Regions from separate parts of the Homo sapiens genome. Here region 1 is linked to region 2. The links come from fine-mapping of genetic effects on gene expression. Tissue or cell type: whole blood. Region 2 holds a variant in brackets; the other region holds the start of a gene. All regions are shown on one strand. Distances are between the middles of the regions.

What was found. PIP is the estimated chance that this variant, and not a neighbour inherited with it, causes the effect.
Region 1: RNASET2 starts here. The variant in region 2 is fine-mapped to the expression of RNASET2 in whole blood (TOPMed, PIP 0.95).

Annotation. Positions count from the first base shown.
Region 1 is chr6:166,952,750-166,960,839 of GRCh38, reverse strand. It overlaps RNASET2 (ribonuclease T2), which reads left to right and starts at 4,290. Exons shown (of 9, transcript NM_003730.6): 1 at 4,290-4,743. The coding sequence starts at 4,658. RefSeq lists a cis regulatory region at 1,254-1,540, an enhancer at 2,221-2,340 and silencers at 3,305-3,354, 3,625-3,724, 3,765-4,524.
Region 2 is chr6:167,060,202-167,068,309 of GRCh38, reverse strand. No RefSeq gene overlaps it. Among named protein-coding and RNA genes, the nearest start is that of CCR6, 59 kb to the left of the region's middle. The variant G/A (reference allele first, on the strand shown) is at 4,425.

The sequences.
Region 1 (8,090 bases), 110 kb after region 2:
AGTTAAGTCACACTTGAAGAACAAATTATATTGTGAGAAACACATGACTGGTCTTTTCTGTTTCTCTCCTGTCCTCCTTTTGTCATGGCCACAGCTCAGAATAAAAGAGTTCCACAAAATGTGTACCACAGTGGCCAGGCTGGCATGGCAAGGCCAGAGGTGCTGGGACACCCTGACCAACATGGTCAAACTCCGTCTCTACTAAAAACACAAAAATTAGCCGGACGTGGTGGCACACGCCTGTAATCCCAGCTACTCGGGAGGCTAGGGCAGGAGAATTGTTTGAGCCTGGGAGACGGAGGTTGCTGTGAGCCGAGATTGTGCCACTGACTGCACTCCAGCCTGGCTGACAGAGTGAGACTCTGTCTCAAAAAAAAAAAAAGAAAAAGAAAAAGAAGAGAAAGGGCAGGGAAACACCCAGCAGCTGGCCTCACTTTCTCAGCAAATAAGTAATTCAGGATGGAAAGGAGTTTTTAAGGTGAGATTCTTTCAAGTGTGACAAAGCTCTTTAGAGCATGAGAATCCTAAACTGTGTAGTTGTGCCACTGCTCTGCCATTGGAATGGCCAGCACCAGATATGGGCTGTTCCTACCGCCTGGGTTCCAGAGTGAAAAATACCGTGGACCACAGTGGCATCTGACGCATAGCCAGCATGGAATATGGGCAAATGAATGATAAATGATCAACTTCCGTTTAAGTGAGACACTGAGATTTGGGGGCGGTGTATTATTGTAGCATAACCCAGCAAAAGCTGGCATGGAAACAGGAAACCTGGAGCTAATGCCAAGAAGAGGTTGTGTGGTGAAAGTATCTTGGTCTCTTCAGAATTAACAAGGATTTAAGGATGTCTGTTCATAGACATGGCTGTTGCCATCCTGTCCCCCTCCCCTCTCCTAAGGACATGTTTCTATACAAGCCAGCAGCATCTTTTAAACCTCATAGTTTGTACCCTTTTACACTATGTTGTGTGAGTCAATGTAATTCCCACTCTGGCCCCTGCCCACCTGCTTGATGCTGGAGCCCTCTTTGTTTTCGTAAAGCTGGGCGGCTTCCAGACCCAAATCCAGCCTTTACAGCCACTGCCTCTTCCCTACGTAGGGTTCCGTTTAGGATCCTGGTAGGTGGACAAGTAGTGAACAAGACAGATGACAGATGCTCCAGGTTCACATCCAAGTTTTGGGGGGTTGAGAGCTTTTCCATTTGGATGTCCTTCTTTAAGAACAAGAAGGTAAAATTGTGAATACGGAATGAGATATGGGGTCTTGGTGGGGCCCATGCCAGCAAGGGGCCTGAAGCTCCTCATTAGCTTCCGATGTGGGGGTGGGGGAGTAGAAGTGGGCAGTACAGGAGGAAGTGACAAGAATTCTCAGGGGTGGGGAGAACTGTGTCGAAAATAAACAAGGAAGTGCAACAGGAAATGACTGGGTGGCTTCTTCAGGCTGGGTAGGACGCTGCTGAATTTATCTGATAAAAATCTCCTCTCTGTGAGTTGTGGAAAGTGGCTTGCTGCGAGAGACCCCCTTCTTCCCCACATAACATAGGTAAGAGTGATAGAAGTGATGCAGCTGGGCGCTGTCTCCAAAAAAAAAAAAAAAAAAAGGAAAAGTGACGGATGCTCCCCTCACTCCACCCCCTACCCATTACCTAGGACAAAGCCAGACACAGATCCTCCAATTCCCATTCTTCACCTCATCAATGATGAGCCAGTCAATAGAAATAACACACTTGTTAAGCAAACTTGGTGAGGCTCCTCTCTTCCCCCGAGGCTGAGGACTTTTGGCCTCATCTTAGCCTGAGTCAGTCCCCCCTGAGAACAGGCTGGCCACGGGGTCAACCTTCTCTGATCTAATGTCCTATGAAGGCAGGTTCTCATCCCACTTCTCCATTCCCAGTTCATTCTTTCTCTCTCTTTCTTTTTCTCTCTTTCTTCTTTCTTTCATTCATTCTTTTTGTTGTTGTTGTTGACCGAGTCTCACTCTGTCGCCCAGGCTGGAGTGCAGTGGCGCGATCTCGGCTCACTGCAACCTCTGCCTCCTGGGTTCAAGCGATTCTCCTGCCTCAGCCTCCAGAGTAGCTGGGATTGAGGGAAGAGAGAGACCCTCTCATATTGTTTTATATTGTTTTATACTCAGTACCTGTTTTAAGAAAAAAACAAGGAAGTGAAATCAAAGACAGGCAGCCCGGCGCCAGGCCCAAAACCGGACCTGGGCCTGCCTGGCCTAAACCTAGTAGTTAAAAATCAACTCATGACTTAGAGACCGATGTTATTCATAGATTCCAGACATTGTATAGAAGAACATTGTGAAACTCCCTGCCCTGTTCTGTTTCTCTCTGACCACCAGTGCATGCAGCCCGTCACGTACCCCTTGCTTGCTCAAATCAATCACGACCCTTTCATGTGAAATCTTTAATGTTGTGAGCCCTTAAAAGGGACAGAAATTGTGCATTCGGGGAGCTCGGATTTTAAGGCAGTAGCTTGCCGATGCTCCCAGCTGAATAAAGCCCTTCCTTCTATAGCTCGGTGTCTGAGAGGTTTTGTCTGCCGCTCCTCCTGCCACAGGATTACAGTCGCGTGCCACCCCCGCCCAGCAAATTTTTGTATTTTTAGTAGGGACAAAAGGCCCCCAGGCCCCTGCAATAATGGTCCTCATAACACCACTCCTCCCCGAGTCCAGATTTGCTTTATATTTGGCAGTGGTCACAACAGCCCTCCTTGACAAGGGGCTGTTTAAACACACCGGACTGTGATTTAAAGGAAAATGAGGATTCTGGGAAGCACTTTTGTTTTAAGAAAATTATTTTTTTAGCTTAAAAGAAAAGAGAAAAAGAACTGTGGCGTGTGCCTATATTCTTGAGAGGAAGGAATGAAAGGAGCCGGAAAGAAACAAATAAGTCGTTAGGGAAAAGGAGAACGAGAATAACACCATGACCTGTAGGAGGTCCTGGAGGAGCTAAGGAGGTGTCAGCCATTTTCCCCCCCCATCTGTTCCACAGGTGGCATTTTATTGAGCACCGACTGTCCCCCATCCACTGTGCTCAGTGGCAGGGACTCAAGGTGGGCAAAATAGACATGGGCCTTGCCTTGCAGTCTAGTGGGAAAAACAGATTAATCATTTAAATATTTTGTTTCAAAGAATGGTAATGCATGCAGGCAAGGTCCAGGCCTGTGGGAGAGCAGGCTACAGGCCCACCTGCTATTTAGACAGTTACCAGTGGCAGAGGACCCCGAGGAAGGCGCAGTTTACTCGACGTGTAAATAGGAATAGCCTTAACTAGCTGTGGGTGTGCGGACAGGGAAGGGAAAGAGGAGAAACATCTGCAGAGACAATGCCGGGTGCACAGCCCGTGGGCGGGGCCGCGGGTGCAGGGGAACCCGTGCCTCTGAAGGGCTGGGAAGGCCAGGGTGTTGGGGGAGGAGACCGGGCCTATGGGACTGGCCCTGGCTACGCCAAGGTGGGGCTGACATGAAGTCCCCTTCATCCGTGGGGGGTGGCCCGTCCCTCTGGGAGGGGATCCCTCACAAGATGACTTCCCAGGTCGCGCCCCGAGGCGGCTCTTTGCTGCCCCCACAGAGATGACTTCCGGGCTCCTGGGGCCCGCGGGGAGGGGCAGGTGAGGCCCAGGGCTGGGTGAGGGCCAGGCCCTTCTAGGAATGTTGGTGCTCCCAGCACCTAGCACCGGGAGACTGGAGAGGTTTCCAGGAGAGTGACCCGAGTAGGTCCCCTCCTAATTCTGGAGCCGTCCCTCGGGCTGCGCAGTGGAGCGCCGAGGTGGCGGGAGGCTGCGGGGAGCCTGGGCGGCCAAGCACCATCTGCAGTCAGGAGCTCCCGGGCAGCTTGCAGGGCGCAGTTTTTGAAAGCGGGTGCTGCGTGCGGACCGCGGGCCTGCAGGGTGCGCGGGTCGGGCTGGGGGCTGTCCCTGGAGAGTAGAGTGGCCCTGGGGCCCGCACGCCCACTTGCTGGCGGGGGATGGCGCAGACACGGGCGGTCCCCCCGAGGGCGGTCCTCACGGGTGGTCTAGGTTAGCTCGGACCCGGGAGTGTGGGAGTGGCGCAGAGCTGCGGGAAAAGGCGCGGGGCGCCTGCGTGGCGAAGGAACACAGCCGCCTGACACGCCCTCAAGGCCCGCGGAGCTGCTCCTGCCTCGGCCTCTCTGAGCCAACCACGGGGCGGGGCGTGAACGCCGGGCGGGGACGTGCCGTTCTGGGGGGCGTGTCCACCGGCGGGGGCGTGCCGTCCTGGGGGCGTGGCTCTCTGCTCCGGTGCAGGCCCGCAGGGCGCCCTGGGCTGGGAGCAACGCGACTGACCGTGGTCGTGGGCGGACGGCGGCTGCAGCGTGGAGGAGCTGGGGTCGCTGTGGGTCGCGAAGCAGAGCCCGGGACGTGCGCGCTTGGTGCACGATCCTGAAGGGGAGCTCCGAGGGGCCCGGGTCGCCAGGGCTGCTGCGGCCATTCCCGGAGCCCGGCGCGGGGCCCGCGAGATACTGGTTTAGGCCGTCCCAGGGCTCCGGGCGCACCCGGTGGCCGCTGCTGCAGCGGAGGGAGCGCGGCGGCGCGGGGGCTCGGAGACAGCGTTTCTCCCGGAAGTCTTCCTCGGGCAGCAGGTGGGAAGTGGGAGCCGGAGCGGCAGCTGGCAGCGTTCTCTCCGCAGGTCGGCACCATGCGCCCTGCAGCCCTGCGCGGGGCCCTGCTGGGCTGCCTCTGCCTGGCGTTGCTTTGCCTGGGCGGTGCGGACAAGCGCCTGCGGTGAGTTACCTTGCGAGGTAAAGTGGGGAGCGTGGGAGCCGGGCCCTAGAGCTTTCCACTGGGTGAAGGCTGCAGCTCTCGGGGTCGGCGGTCGCTGAGCCCCGGGCAGCGACTGGGGAGGGCGGGGGGAGCCGAGCACGCTCCGGGGTGACCCCTGGGAAGAAGTTGGGAAGTTGAGCACGCCTCGGGGTGACCCCTGGAGGGAGTGGGTTGGGGGGAGCCCTTAGCACACTCAGAAGTGACCTCTGGGAAGGAGTGCGATGAGGGGAGTCCTGAGCACGCCCCGGGGTGACCTCTGGGAAGGAGTGGGTTGGGGGGAGCCCTGGGCACGCTCTGGGGTGACTCCTGGGAAGAAGTGGGTTGGGGAGCCCTGAACACTCCCCGGGGTGACCCCTGGGAAGGAGTAGGGGGTAGGGTGAGGTCCTGGGTACACTCCAGCCTGGAGCTGGACTGGAAACTCATCCCACAGACTGCTCCCAGCCTAGGACGCGACAAAGCAGGTGGCAGGCTTGGTGGAGCACTGTTCCTGCACTCGAAGTTCTCTCAGAGGTCGAAGAAGTCGTGGAGGGGACACTTAATTTCAGCTTTCACTGCGGCGGGTGGTGAAACGACGGTTCTTCCTCTTTTTGAGTATCCTGTTCTGAATCCCTTCCCTTGGCTCGCCCTCCGCGTGTGTGTGTGTGTGCGCGTGTGTGTGTGCGCGTGTGTGTGTGTGCGTGTGCGTTTGTGTGTGCGTGTGTGTGTGCGTGCGTGTGCGTGTGCGTGCGTGCGTGTGTGTGCGTGTGTGTCGTGTGTGCGCGTCTGTGCGTGTGTGTCGTGTGTGCGCGTGTGTGTGTGTGCGTGTGTGCGTGTGTGTGCGTGCGTGCGTGTGTGCGCGTGTGTGCGTGCGTGTGTGCGTGCGTGTGTGCGTGTGTGTGTGTGGCAGCCGCCCAAATTAATTAGGGGTAAACAGGCGGTGCTGCAAAGAACTCCAACTTTAATTCTGTGGAAGATACCAATATTTGAATACCATATTATTTCTTTCTATTTGGGTAATGATCGGGTTAATAGGATTTCTTACTTACATAGTAGGTGTGGAAAAGGTGGGTTTTACTTATTTATTTTTTTTTAGACAGTCTTACTCTGTCACTCAGGCTGGAGTACAGTGGCGTGACCTCAGCTCACTGCAACCTCCACCTCCCGGGTTCAAGCGATTCTCCTGCCTCAGCCTCTGAGTAGGTGGGATTACAGATGCACACCACCACGCCTGGCTAATTTTTGTATTTTTAATAGCCAGGCTGGTCTCGAACTTCTGACCTCAGGTGATCCGCCCGCCTCGGCCTCCCAAAGTGCTGGGATTACAGGCGTGAGCCACTGCACCCGGCCAGGGTTTTACTTTTTAAACACCTTAGGTATATATTTTTAATCATGTACATTAAAATGTAGCATTATATTTCAGTGTTCCGGAAAGTGTATTTTCTGAAAAAGAGCTACATTTATGTCCTTATTTATTGGCCATGAGGTTCAGAGCCTCTCACTGGGGAAGTCTGTGGCATGCTGGCCCTTGCTGGCTGAGTGGAAACTGCTAGTTCACACCCAGGTGTGGGACCTTTGAGCTCTCTATGCCCCAGTTTCCTCATCTGTAAAGTAGAAATAGTAACAGTCAGCCTCACAGAGTTGGCTTCAGGAGAAATCAGTTAAGGTACAGAATGTAACTTGGAATGATGTCTGGCTGGAAGTAAACATTAGCATAAAACAGGCTGTCATATGTGGATCCCCCACCCCAGCCCATAATTCATGCAACTGATATGATCGGACAAACTTGAGCAGGCAAGATTTGCGAGAACATGGTTGATTCAGACCACGAGGGCTTCATAGGTCAGCGGGCATTTTCCCAAGTTCTAACTGGTTTTGAGACCTTGGTGATTTTTCTTTCTTCTTTGACTTTCTTTAGCTTCTCCATTACTTTCTCCGTGAATAGGGGAGGGGGGCATCTGTGTGGGAGGGGGTCTCCTGCAGTCACATCACTCTGCCTGGTTTTAGATGGAGAGTTTGTTACAAACGTCTGAGTCTTGGTAGTTTTGTTGTAAGCATATTGATAGTCTCATCTTCCTGGGTGTTGCTAAGCTTTCCAGCCTCAGGTTCCGACTATGTAAAATAAGGTTTTTCACCCAAGGGTAAAAAATGCTTTACCAGCTCCAATTCTCACCCTGCAGCTCATCCTTTTTTTTTTTTTTTGAGACAGGGTCTGGCTGTGTAGCCCAGGTTGGAGTGCAGTGATGTGATCTGGGCTCACTGCATCTTCCACCTCCTGGGCTTAAGCTATCCTCTTGCCTCAGCGCCTTCCAAGTAGCTGGGACTACAGGTTCATGCCACCACACCTGGCTAATTTTTGTAGAGACAGGGTTTCACCATGTTGCCCAGGCTGGTCTTGAACTCCTGAGCTCAAGCAATCCTCCTGCCTCTGCCTCCCAAAGTGCTGGGATTATAGGTGTGAGCCACCACGCTTGAACCCTTTTTTCCTTTTATACTGAGAGCTTGCATAATTAGTTCCAATGTACAACTAAGTTTTCATACCATCTTAACTGTAAATTCTATACAAATTCAACAGGACTCAATTATTTACAAAAGCTAATGTGTGACAACTTGATCTTCTTACTTGGAATCTTCCCTTCTAAAATTTGATTTATCCTGAAGTGTCTGCTTGACTTATATCCTGTGTTGCTGCTGGCTTTTTCCATGTGCATTTTTTGCAAGCTGCTCTTTTTACTTCAGTCTCGTTAAGTCTTGCAGTTCTGGCTAGAGGCCTACTGCCATGAATAAGCTGCCGCTCCACAGTGGCTTCTTTGAAGTCTTAGAGTCAGATGAGTTTCACGGTGTTCAGGTTTGTGATCCAGTGTGGCCCCAGGTTCTGGGTAACACGTGTGATGCAGTGCTGTGTGCATACCATGTCGTGAATAACATTCATGATGCAGTGCACATACCGTGTTCAAGTTAACAGTCCTGGTGGCATCTGAAGTAGCACCCTAAAATCAAATGACACAAATTCTGCAGAGAAGCAAGTGAAGTCTAAAAACTGAGTTGGGGTAGTAACGATAAATAGCGTTATGCTAGTTCAGGTTATGTTTTGTTGCCAAATGAATTACAAAAAACTACCAGGTTTCAGGCTTTTATGGGTTTCACGAATGCAGGGGAGGGATCGTGGGTCTGCATTTCTCTTGAGCATCCTTAGGAGAAAGGTGCTTCGTGGCTCAGTGGCTTCCCTTCAGTGAGGCCCTCCCTGGCTGCACTCCTAGCTTGCCCTGCCTCCGCTTCCCCTCCTCTCCCCTCCTCCCCTTATCCTATTCATGTTCTCCGCCACTCAGCAC
Region 2 (8,108 bases):
TATGTTCTCACTTATAAGCAGGAACTAAGCTATAAAGACGCAAAGGAATAAAATGATATAATGGACTTTGGGGACTTAGGGGAAAGGGTGGGAGAGGCTGAAGGATAACAGACTACACACTGGGTACAGTGTACATTGCTTGGATGATGGGTGCACCTTAATGTCAGAAATCATGACTAAATAACTTTTCCATGCAACCAAATACCACCTGTTCCCCCAAAACTATTAAAATAAAAAAATTTTTAAAGAATATTATCTTGTGATAATATTAAAATATTTAGTTATTTTCTGATTTAAAATTATGTGGGCAGAAACATACTTCATATTTTTCAGTTCTTTTAAATTGGTTAAGTGTCTTTTAATAACGTAAGATGTGCTCTGTGTATGTGACTATTCCATGTGCACCTGAAAAGCACGTTTATTCTGCTGTTGTTGGGTGAAGTGGTCCACAATTGTCAATATGGTCCAGCTGAATGGTGATGCTGTTTGCCTCTTCTTTATCCTTGCTGATTGTCTGCTTATGGTTCTATCAATTACTAAGCCAGGCATGTTGAAATATTCAACTATTATTGTGAATTCGTTCTTTACCTTCAATTTTGTCAGTTTTTCTTTTGTGCAATTTGAAGTTCTGTTGTTAGGTGTCTTCTTGGTGAACTGACACTTCTGTCATTAGGTAATGTCCCTTGTAATCCCTGGTAATTGTCTTTGCTCTGAAATCTATTTTGTCTGATACTAATCACCCAGCTTTCTTTTGATTTGTGTTTACACAGTATATCTTTTTCATCCTTTATTTTTTGCTTTTTTTTCTTTTTAGGGTTAGGTTTAACAACTTTATTGAGATATAATTTGTATACCATACAATTTCTTGGTCTTTTAAGTTGTCTTTCCACTTAAACTATACAATTCAGTGGGTTTTTTTGTTGTTGTTGTTTTGTTTTGTTTTTTGAGATGGAGTCTCGCCCTCTCACCCAGGCTGGAGTGCAATGGCACAATCTCAGCTCACTGCAACCTCAGCTTCCTGGGTTCATGCTATTATCCTGTCTCAGCCTCCCGAGTAGCTGGGATTACAGGTGCCTGCCACCACAGCACAGTAGCTCATGCCTGTGATCCTAGCACTTTGGGAGGCCGAGGCAGGTGGATCACTTGAGGTCAGGAGTTCGAGACCAGCCTGACCAACATATTGAAACCCTGTCTCTACTACAAATTCAGTGGGTTTTTAGGATATTCAGAGTTGTACAACCATCACCACAGTCAACTTTAGGACATTTTCATCTCAAAAAGAAACATCATACCCTTTAGCACTCATCAGCTCATCCTCACCCCCACCATTCCTAAGCAGCAATCACTAACCTACTTCCTGTCTCTATAGATTTACCTATTCTGGACTCTCATAGGAATGGATATATACATGTGGGCTTTGAGTTCCATCCAAGTTGTAGCATGTATCAGTAACTTATTCTTTTTTCTGGCCAAATAATGGATATACCACTTTTTTCATGCTTCATTTATAAACATTTGGGCTGTGTCCACCTTTGGCTATTATGAATAATGCTGCTATAAACATCCGTGCAGCAGTTATTTTGTGGTCATGCTATTTGTAAATGGAAAAAACACAAACTGTTTATTTTCTATATTCTCACAGCATAACTGCAATCAACACAGAAGACTTCTGTGACCAAATGTTGGAGGGTTTTCTCCACACACCAAGCAAGCAATCAGTTCTGCAGTGGGCTGGTGTCCTCCAATTCAATTCTGACTCTTCCTGGAGGTAGTGTCAGATCCCAAAGGTTGAGGGCTGAGTCCCAGAAAACTGTCACCACCTTCAGGCACCAGTCGCAGGTCTGGGCCTCTGGAACTTCTGACCAACCAGCTTTAAGTTGAGGTTCCCATGACCCTCTCTTTAAATTAGATAAATTGGCTAGAACAGCTCACAGGAGTCAGGGAAACACTTACTTACATTTACCAGTTTATTATAAAGGATATTACAAAAGACACAGATAAAGAGATGTATAGGTTGAGGTATGAGGAATGGGCTCAGAGCTTGCATGTCCTCCCCAGGTGCTCCACTCTTTAGGAACCTCCACATGCTAAGTGATTCAGAAGCTGTCCAAACCCTGTCCTTTTGTGTTTTTATGGAGGCTTCATTATGTAGACATTTTATTAAACTGTTGGCCACCGATGATCAACTTAACCTTCAGCCCCTCTCCCCTCCCTGGAGCTAGGAGTGAGCTGAAAGTTTCGACCTCCTAATTTTGCCTTGGTCTTTCTGTTAACCAGCCCCCATCCTGAAGCTACCTAGGAGAAGCCAACCATCAGCCAATCATTAGCATACAAAAAGACATCACTTTGGAGATACTAAGGATTTCAGAAGTTGTATGCCAGGAAATTGGATCAAATACCAAATGTATATTTCACAATATCACAATTTGTCTTCACAATTTGTCTTGGATATATAGCTATGAGTGGAATTACTTGGTCGTATGGTAACTCTATGTTTAATCATTTAAGGAACTGCTAAACTGTTTTCCAAAGTAGCTATGATATTTTTCATTCTCAGCAGCAGTGTAGGAGGGTTCTGATTTCTCCATATCCTTATCAGCATTTGTGATTATCTGACCTTTTCATTCTAGCCATCCTAGTGGATAGGAAGTTGTATTTGGTTGATTTGCATTTCCCTAATATTCAAGCATCTTTTCAAGTGCTTGTCGTCCATTTGTTTATCTTCTTTAGAGAAATCTATTCAGATATTTGCCCATTTTTCAACTGGATTATTTAGGGTTTATTATTATTGAGTTGCAAGAGTTGTTTATGTATTCTAGATGCATGTACCTTATTTGATTTACAAATATTCTCTACCATTCTTTGGGTTGTTCTTTTCATGTTTTTTCTTGATGTCCTTTGGGTCACAAAGATTTTAATTTTAATGAAGTCAAATTTATTTTTCTTTTGTTCCTCATGCTTTTGGTATCATATCTAAAAATCCTTTGCGAAATCCAAAGTCATAAAGATTTCTCTGTATGGTTTGTGATGGTTAATATTGAGTGTCAACTTGATTGGATTGAAGGATGCAAAGTATTGTTCTTGGGTGTGTCTGTGAGGGTGTTGCCAAAGGGGATTAACATTTGAGTCAGTGGATTGGGAAAGGCAGACCCACCCTCAATCTGAATGGGCACCATCTAATCTAAACACTGAGCTGTCAATATGGCACCATTCCTTGGGATGATCAGCCAGCTGGTTGGTGGCAGGTTGATTATACTGGCCATTTCCATCATGGAAAGGACAGCACTTTGTCCTCATCAGAATAGACACTTACCCTGGATACGGGTTTGCTTATCCTGCACACAATGCTTCTGCCAAAACTACCAACTGTGAACTCACAAAATGCTTTATTCACTGTGATGGTATTCCACACAGCATTGCACTCACTTTACAGCTAAAGAAGTGTGACAGTGGGCTCATGCTCATGGAATTCACTGGTCTTACCATGTTCCCCCTCATACTGAAGCAGCTGGATTAATAGAACAGTGGAATGGCCTTTTGAAGTCACAATTACAATGCCAACTAGGTGACAACAGTTTGCAGGGCCAGGACAAAGTTCTCCAGAAGGCTGTGTATGCTCTGAATCAGCATCCAATATATGGTACTGTTTCTCCCATAGCTGCAATTCACAAGTCTAGGAATCAAGGAGTGGAAGTGGAAGTGGCACCACTCACCATCACCCCTAGTGATCCACTAGCAAAATTTTTGCTTCCTGTTCCCACAGCATTACATCCTGCTGGCCTAGGAGTCTTAGTTCCACAAGAAGGAACACTGCCACCAGGAGACATAACAACAATTCCATTAAACTGGAAGTTAAGATTGCCACCTGGACACTTTGGGCTACTCCTACCTTTAAGTCAACAGGCTAAGAGAAGGGAGTTACAGTGTTGGCTGGGGTGACTGACTCGAACTATCAAGATGAAATTAGTCTACTATTAATTTCACTACTAATTTCACTCCACCGTGGAGGTAACGAAGAGTATGTGTGGAATACAGGAGATCCACTAGGGCATCTCTTAGTATTACCATGCCCTATGATTAAGGTCAATGGGAAACTACAACAGCCCAATCCAGGCAGGACTATAAATGGCTCAGACTCTTCAGGAATGAAGGTTTGGGTCACTCCACCAGGAAAAAAACCACGACCTCCTGAGGTGCTTGCTGAAGGCAAAGGGAATACAAAATGGGTAGTAGAAGAAGGTAGTCATCAATACCAGCTATGACCACATGACCAGCTGCAAAAACAAGGACTGTAATTGTCATGAGTATTTCCTCCTTCGTTAAGAACACGTTTGTGCATGTATACACTTGTACTAAGAAAATATCTTCATTGGCCGGGCGCGGTGACTCACGCCTGTATTCCCAGCACTTTGGGAGGCTGAGGC[G/A]GGTGGATCACGAGGTCAGGAGATCGAGACCATCCTGGCTAACATGGTGAAACCCTGTCTCTACTAAAAATATAAAAAAACTAGCCAGGTGTGGTGGTGGGTGCCTGTAGTCCCAGCTACTGGGGAGGCTGAGGCAGGAGAATGGCGTTAACCCGGGACGCAGAGCTTGCAGTGAGCCGAGATCGCGCCACTGCACTCCAGCCTGGGTGACAGAGCAAGACTCCATCTCAAAAAAAAAAAAAAAAAAAAAGAAAATATCTTCATTTTATTTCCTTTTTCCTTTAGTGACATAAGATTTATTGACTTCATATCAACATTTAAATGTTGTTAACTTTATGTAATAGCATTTGAATTGGGGATTGGTGTGTTTCTGGTTGTATGAAGGATGGTTGTATTATGTTAGGCATAATTATTATTACCTTATTATTGTCTTTATTTGCAGATTATGTATGATTTCAGGAGATGTGTATGGGTTCAAGTTGACAAGGGGTGGACTTGTGATGATTAATACTGAGTGTCAACTTGATTGGATTGAAGGAGGCAAAGTATTGTTCCTGGGTGTGTCTGTGAGCCTGTTGCCAAAGGAGATTAACATTTGAATCAGTTAATCAGTGAATCAGTGGGTCTGGGAAAGGCAGACCCACCCTCAATCTGGGTGGGCACAATCTAATCAGCTGCCAGCTCAGCCAGAATAAAAGCAGACAGAAGAATGTGAAAAAACTAGACTAGCTTACCCTCTGAGCCTACATCTTTCTTCCATGCTGGATACTCCCTGCTCTCAAACATCGGACTCCAAGTTCTTCAGCTTTGGGACTGGGATTGGCTTCCTTGCTCCTCGGTTTGCAGATGGGCTATTGTGGGACCTCACCTTGTAATTGTGTGAGTTAATGCTCCTTAATAAACTCCCCTTTACATCTACATCCATCCTATTAATTCTGTCCCTCTAGGGAACCCTAACTAATAGATTTCTTCTAAGAGTTTTAGTTTTTTTGTTTTACATTTAGATCTTTGATCTATTTTGAGTTAATTTTTTATACAGTGTGAGGTAAGGATCAAGCTTCATTCTTTGGATGTGACTATCCATTCCACCTAGTATAATTTGTTGAAAAGACTATTCTTTCCCCATTGAACGGTCCTGGAGCCTTTTTCAAAACTCAGTTGACCACAGATGTATGGATATACTTCCAGACTCTCAATTCCATTCCATTGATTTGTATTTCTATCTTTATGCCAGTACCACACTGTCTTGATTGATTGCTATCGCATTGTAGTAAATTTTTAAATCAGGAAGTATGAGTCCTAGTTTATTCTTCATTTTTAAGATTGTTTTGGCTATTGTGGATTCCCTGCAATTCTATATGAATTTCGAATCAGTTTGTCGATGTCTGCAAAAAATCTCTGTGATTCTGATAGGGATTGCTTTTAACCTGTGTAACGATTTGGGGAGTATTGTCATTTTAACAGTGTTATGTATTCTAATCCATGAATATGAAATATATTTCCTTTTGTTTAGATCTTTGATTTTTTCATTATGTTTTATAGTTCCAGAGTATAGTAAGTTTTGCAATTTTTATGTTAAATTTATTCTTAAGAATTTATTTTTGATGCTATCATAAACAAATATTTTTAATTACATTTTCAGATTGTTCATTGCAAATATGTAAAAATACACAATTGATTTTTGTATATTAATCTCATATCCTGCACCCGTGCTGAGCTTGTTAGTGCCAATAGTTTTTTTAAAGTGAATTCCTTAGACTATTATATATACAAGATCATAACATCTACAGTTTTATTTCTTTCTTTCCAAACTGATGGCTTTTTCTTTTTATTTTTGCCTAATTGCCCTGGCTAGAACTTCTAGAACAATGTTGTATATAAGTGAAGAGAGCGATCATCCTTGTCTTATTTCTCATCTTGAGGGAAAGCATCCATGTTTTCACAATTAAGGATAATAGTAGCAGTGAGTTTTTTATAGTTACCTTTTATCAGGTTGAGGAAGTTTTCTTCTATTCCTAGTTTCTTGAGTATTTATATTATGACAGAGTGTGGATTTTTCCAAATGTATTTTCTGCATCTTTTGAAATGATCATGTAATTTTTGTATTTATTCTGTTGTTATTATGCATTACATTAATTGATTTTTCAAATGTTGAATCAACTGTGCATTCCTGGGATAAAAATTCCACTTGGTCATGGTGGATATTTCCTTTTATATGCTGTTGGATTTGGTTTGCTAGTATTTGTTCATGATGTCTGCATCTATTCATAAGATATATTCATCTTTAGTTTTTATTTCTTATGAGGTTTTTGTCTGGTTTTGGTATCAGGGCAACTAGCCTCATAAAATGAATTGTAAAGTATTCCCTCCTCTTTTTTAAGAGAATTTGTAAAGAATTGGTGTTCATTTAAAAAAAAAAAAATTTAGTAGAATTCCGTGGTGAAACCACTTGATACAGGGCTTTACTTTGTGGGTAGATTTTTTGCTTAGCTATTCAATCTTGATTATTATAATTCTTTTTAGACTTTTGATATTTTCTTAAATCAGTTTTGGTAGTTTATATCTTTCTAGAAATCTTCCCACTTTATCTAAGTTATTTCATTGTTGATGTACAATTGCTGTCATATTCTTCCTTTACAACCCTTTGTATTTCTGTCAAGGTCAGAAATAATGTCTTCTCTTATTTCTGATGCTAGGAATGTGAATCTTCTCTTTTTCATGGCCAGTCTAGCTATAGGATTGTCAGTTTTGTTGGATTTTTTTCAAAGAACCAGTTTTTTAATTTTATTGATTTCCTCTATTGTCTTTCTATTCTCTATTTCATTATTTTTCATTTTAATCTTTATTTTCTTCATTTTGCTTGCTTTAGATTTAGTTTGCTCTTCTTTCCCCAGTGTCTTTAAGTGGAATATTAGCTTATTGATTTATTTTTTTCCTTCTTGATATAAGCATTTACAGCTATAAATTGTCCTCTAAGCCCTCATCTGCTTTCACTGGATTCCATAAGGTTGGTGTGTTTTATCTTCATTTTCATACATCTCCAAGTATTTTCTGATTTCCCTTTTGAGTTCTCCTTTGATCCATTGGTTATTTAGGAGTGTGTCTTTACATTTCTATATATTTGTGAGTTTCCCAGATTTTTTCCTGTTATTAATTTCCTATTTTATTCCAAAGTGACTGGAGAACATACTTTGTGTTATTTCTGTCCTTTTAAATATATTCAAGTTTGATTTTGGCCTAACATATAATCTATCCTGGAGAAGGTTTCGTGTATATATATAGAAAAATGAATATTTTGTTTTTGGCTAACGTGCTCTATAGATGTCTGTTAGCATTGATGTATTTGCCTTCAGGTTTACCATTTTGTTATTTGTTTTGTTTTATCTTCTGTTTTTCATTCTTGTTTTCTCTTTCCTACCTTCTTTCCAATTATACAAACATTTTGTAGCATACTATACTTATCTGTTGTATATTTAACTATGTATTTTTTCATAGTTTTAAAAGTGTTTACTCAAGGAATTACATTACACAGTTAACAAAATTTTCACAGTCTACTTAGAATCAATATTTTACCACTTCAAGTTAAATGGAGAAAGCTAAGCATCATATGGGTACCTTTATCTCTCATTGTTTTTACTTCTAACATGTATGACACCAATATGTGGGCTTTTTCTACACCAGTGA